Linked DNA regions of Homo sapiens: region 1 is linked to region 2. A link means that fine-mapping ties the variant in region 2 to the expression of a gene that starts in the linked region. Tissue or cell type: spleen. Region 2 holds a variant in brackets; the other region holds the start of a gene. All regions are shown on one strand. Distances are from middle to middle.

Region 1 (2,500 bases), 840 kb before region 2:
AGCCCACAAGCAGGTACCCGGGACATGGATGCCCCGTGGACGGTCTCGGGAGGAGAGCTCAGGCCCCCCTGGAATCACCTCCCATGGCCTGTCCTCTGGGAATGCAGCAGAAAATATGGCAGGAAATATAGGGAGCTTCCCAGCTCTGGGAGTTAGATCTCACATCAGAGCCTGGAACTCCCCATCCCAACCCCCCCTCGGATACTCACAGCGCAGGCCCTGCTGCCCCCTGGTGGCCACATCCTGACCCTGCAAGCCTGAAAGTCCCATGGTTTGGCTAGGCACCCTGGGTGGCACAGTGGGACTGGAGACGGAGCTGCCCGCTCAGGGCAGGTCCTCTGGTGGAGTGCTGGGACCCCAGCCCCAGAAAGTGCAAGTAGCACAGATGACGCCCCAGGCCACCACCTCCTTGCAGCAGGAGGCTAGGGGTGAGAGGAGGCTGACCCTCTCTTCAAGGAGCTGCCATGGGTGAGGGGCAAGGAGGGTCCCTGCCAACATTTACCGAGTGCCCACCCTGTCCCTACACTTTGTTTTTTAAATTTTATGTATAGATATAGAGAGAGTTTGGGGCCTCGCTGTGTTGCCGAGGCTGGTCTGGAACTCCAGGCTTCAAGTGGTCCTTCTGCCTTGGCCTCTCAAAGAGCTGGGATTACAGGTGTGAGTCACCATGCCAAGCCCACTTTGTTTCTTTGAGGGATGTACACTTGACTGGAAACCTTAAATATTCTTCAGACGGAACACAAGGGTTTCAACCAAGGCTGTCACACAGGCTACACAGAAAACTAGAGCTCCCTGGATTCAGAGCGAGGAGAGGGAGAGATGGAGGAGGGGGACTGAGTTTGCTACAATGATGCCCCATGCACGTCCTTCCAGCAACTTACCATCCCACCCCATAGAAGGCCTGTTCTGGGAGGCAGCTGGATTCACCTGGCGGAAACTGCTGGAGTCCTTGGATGGCCTTATTCGGAGGTCCCAGCTTCCCCCTGTGACCTGTGGAGACCTCAGCCACCTGGAATGGCTGAGACAAGAATGCTGGCTTTTCTGTGCATGGGACACCATTGATTTGTCTTCCTCAGTATATGCTTCTGTACCCAGGACAGCAGTGATGTCCTGCAGGGAAGTGGGGACCCACTGGATCTTTTGCTCCATGGGCAACATCATAATACTCATTGCTAACAACGCTGGGATCCATGGTTCAAGAGATGGAGCCTGGAGATGTCCAGCTCAGTGGCAGCAGCAGACAGGACAGGGCAACCACGTCATCAGCCAGCACACAGCCTATACAGAGGTGAGAGGCCCCTTCTTGGTGGTGGCGATTCTTTCCTACATGGTGTGGTGTCAGTGACCAGGGTAGGCTGCTAGCCCACGGTGGAAGGGATCCTATCCACTAAGGCAGTCACCTCTGAGCCAGCCTGGGCAAGGTGAAAGATGTTATGAAGACCCAGCCGCACACCTTGACTTTTTTTTTCTTTTCTTTTTGAGACAGAGTCTCGCTCTGTCACCCAGGCTGGAGTGCAATGGTGCTATCTCGGCTCACTGCAACCTCTGCCTCCTGGGTTCCAGTGATTCTCCTGCCTCAGCCTCCCAAGTAGCTGGGATTACAGGTGCCTGCCACCATGCCTGGCTAATTTTTGTATTTTTAGTAGAGACGGGGTTTCACCGTGTTAGCCAGGCTGGTCCTGAGCTCCTGGCCTCAGGTGATATGCCCACCTGGGTCTCCCAAAAATGCTGGGATCACAGGTGTGAGCCACCGCACCCGGCCACACCTTGACCTTTTTGGTCTCTGAAGTCTTCAGCCCTGATCAGTCCAGCCAGAGCCACCAGGCCTGAGCACCAGGGTCTCTCTCTCTCTTTTTTTTCCTTCTGCCTCCCTACCCCTCAAGACAGGGTCTCACTCTGTCACCCAGGCTGTGGTACAGTGGTGTGATCATAGCTCACTGCAGCCTCGAACTCCCAGGCTCAAGTGATCCTCCCATCTCAGCCTCCCAAATAGCTGGCATTACAGGCAAGCACCAACACGCCCAGCTAATTTTCGTATTTTTTGTAGAGACGGTGTTTCGCCATGTTGCCTAGGCTGGTCTCGAGCTCCTGGGCTCATGCAATCCACCTGCCTCGGCCTCCCAGAGTGCTGGGATTACAGATGTGAGCCACCACACCTGGCCAAGGATTCCTTCTTATTTAAGTTTTTGTTTGTTTGAGACAGAGTCTCACCCTGTTGCCCAGGCTGGAGTGCAGGGGTGCAATCTCAGCTCACTGCAACCTCTGCTTCCCGGGTTCAAGCGATTTTCCTGCCTCAGCCTCCCAAGTAGCTGGGATTACAGTCACCAGCCACCAAGCTTGGCTAATATTTGTAGTTTTAGTAGAGACGGGGTTTTACCATGTTGCCCGGGCTGGGCTTGAACTCCTGACCTCAAGTGATCCACCCGCCTCAGCCTCCCAAAGTGCTGGAATTAAAGGTGTGAGACATCATGCCCGGCCTCATATTTACCTTTATGTGCTC
Region 2 (2,756 bases):
TCTCACTAATAGATGCTCAAAATGATTCCCTTCTGAAAATTAACATGGTGCCGTGACATTTGTTAAGGCCATCATGGGGAGAAGGTTGGAGAATGCCAGGGGTAATTGAGACTGTAAGACCAGGTGAAAGGGATGCATGTGGTAGTGCCATTTGGACATCATTGCTCCCACCCAACCAGCAGTACAAGCTACACCCCTGCGAGGGGCTTACAGCCCCTACCATTGTATATAGGGTCCTTGTATATAGGGTGTTCTGTGGATCCTAGGGAGGTGATATGGTTTGGCTCTGTGTCTCCACTGAAATCTCATCTCAAATTGTAATCCCCAGGTGTCGAGGGAGGGACTTTGTGGGAGGTGATTGGATCATGGGGACGGTTTCCCCCATGCTGTTCTCATGATAGTGAGGGAGTTCTCATGAGAGCTGATGGATGATTTTATAAGTGTTTGGTAGTTTCCCCTGCACTCTCTCTCTCTCCTGCTACCATGTAAGACGTGCCTTGCTTCCCCTTCGCCTTCTGCCATGATTGTAAGTTTCCCTCGGCCTCCCCAGCCATGCAGAACTGTGAGTCAATTAAACCTCTTCACTTTATAAATTACCCAGTCTCAGGCAGTATCTTTATAGCAGTGTGAAAATGGACTAATGCAGGAGGGGACTGTCATAAACAGTTGCCAGAGAGGAGACAAGAAGCTAGAGCAAAGCATAAAGAAGCTAGCTGTCCCATTCTTCAGGTATGGGTTCGACTGGAATGCAAGATGTGGAAGGGTAGTTTTGCCCCCTTCCTTCCACCTTGCCCATGTCCATAGAGAATTTCACTTAACCCCACTGGGCAGCAGGAATGGGTCCTGCATTAAGGACATCTCTCCCACTACCGTGTTAACAACTCTATGTGTTTCCTGTGGCTGCCATAACAAATACCACAAACTGGGTGGCTCAAGTAACAAAAATATATCATCTCAGAGTTTTGGGGCACAGAAATCCAAAGTAAAGGTGTCAGCCCAGCGGGTTCCTTCTGGAGGTGCTGAGGGAGGACCTGTTCCATGCCTGTCTCTAGCTTTTGGTGTTTGCCGGCAACCCTTGGTGCTCTTTGACTTGTGGATATATTGCTGCAATCTCTGCCTTTGTCTTCCCATGGTCATCTTCCCCGTGTGTCTCTGTGGCTTCACCTGGTCTTCTTGTAAGGGCACTAGTCATTGGATTCAAGGCTCATTCTGATCCAGTATGGCCTCATCTTAACAGGAAGAATTACACCTGCAAGGTCTCTATTTCCAAATTAAGGTCCCATTCTGAGGTTCCAAGTGGAAATGAATTTTGGGGAACGCTACTCCACCCAGTGCCCTGACCTAATTTGCCTATGGTTTATTAACAAGGCAGCCTTGTTAATAATCCTAGCCTGCCTTGTTTAATAATCATTCCACTCTTCATATTGACGGTGCTAGCTCCATTTCAGATGAGAAAATTGAGGCACAGAGGGCTAAGGTGGCCTTTCCAAAGTCTCCCAGCCTCCAGTGGTGGAGGCAGACCCGAGTGAAATCTCTGTTTTCCAGCCTGGTCCTCCCTCAGCTGTCCCCAACCTCGGTACTGACTGTAGGACTCCCCGGTTCCCACTCATGCATGCTTTTCGCTCATTACAGACGAAA[C/A]CACCTCCTCTCTTCCCAGAATCATCTTTCTTCTGGACAAGGAAATAGTTTCCCCATATGACAGAAAAGAAAGCTAAGCCCCTAAAGGAGGTATTTACAGAAGGCTCAGGTAGACAAAATGGTGTAAGAGGACTCAAGAAAGACAGAAGAGGGGGCAACAATGAGAAGACCTTGTGAGAGCCACCAGAAGGAGCTGCAGAAGCTGGGCAGAGCTCAGGGACCTCAAGGATGGCAGAGGTGCAGGGGCGAGGCCTGCTCCCCTGGCTCCTTGCACCTGTGTCGGTGCCATGGTCCAAAGGGTAATGGCTGTATTGATTGGTCCGTAAGTTATCTGTGCCTGGGGATGGCCAGGGGACGCTCCTCTCACCGGGAAATAAAAGCTTCGACCATCAGGGGATAAATGCAGTGGGAGCAGATGAGCCGTAGAGAGATTGATCTGCTGTACTGGATGGTGACCCTGCAGTGTCAAAGAGTCAACAGAGAGCAGGAGAGAGATGGAGGAGTGGAAGGCCTCAGCCCCTGGCTTAGGGGATCACAGTGGAGAACAGAGAGCAAGCAGCCCTCGCTGTTCACCTGGGGCTTAGTGAGGCAGTAGGTCGCCTTGGGATGAGAGCAGGAGCCAAGGACTTGACCGGCCCCAAGTGTGAATCCCTCCACTGCTCGCTCCCAAGTGACCTTGGGCAGATCCTCAGCCTCACTGCATCGCTGCTTCCCCATCTATTAGAGAAGTGGTAGTGACCTTGGAGGATTGTCATGTGGACTTGGTGCATCGCCTGGGACAACCTGGCACATTGCAAGCTCTTCATACGTGTTACTTCTTTCACTGCACCTGCACAGACTAGGAATGGGGCTGAGGAACCCAGGATGGGAAAAGAAGCCGGGGAGACTTTGGAGATGTACTCAGCAAAGACTGCCGGGCTCCCTACCTCTTCACTCTCCCCTGTCTCTCTGGGAATTTTGAAAGGTGTGCAGCTCCAGTTCCCCTATATTTGCTAACTGATGGCTCCACACCCCTCCTCTGGGGTCCAGGACTGGCTAGCACCTGAACGTTCCACCTGGATAACCAGCTGGCCACAACATGCCCAAAACTGGACCTGGCATCTTCTCTCCAAACCAGC

Alleles and levels. Positions count from the first base shown, and alleles are read on the strand shown. Sizes are in standard deviations (SD) of each study's normalised expression.
With allele A in place of C in region 2, the expression in spleen of the gene that starts at base 1,170 in region 1 is higher (large effect, 0.84 SD a copy in GTEx).

The links. PIP is the estimated chance that this variant, and not a neighbour inherited with it, causes the effect.
Region 1: it holds the start of GPR142, and the variant in region 2 is the best candidate, but not a certain one, in a credible set for the expression of GPR142 in spleen (GTEx, PIP 0.65).

The regions. Positions count from the first base shown.
Region 1 is chr17:74,366,176-74,368,675 of GRCh38, reverse strand. GPR142 (G protein-coupled receptor 142) reads right to left here and starts at 1,170. Exons shown (of 4, transcript NM_001331076.1): 1 at 882-1,170. RefSeq lists an enhancer at 1-556.
Region 2 is chr17:73,528,053-73,530,808 of GRCh38, reverse strand. The region is part of intron 1 of SDK2 (sidekick cell adhesion molecule 2); the gene reads left to right. Among named protein-coding and RNA genes, the nearest start is that of SDK2-AS1, 16 kb to the right of the region's middle. The variant C/A (reference allele first, on the strand shown) is at 1,639.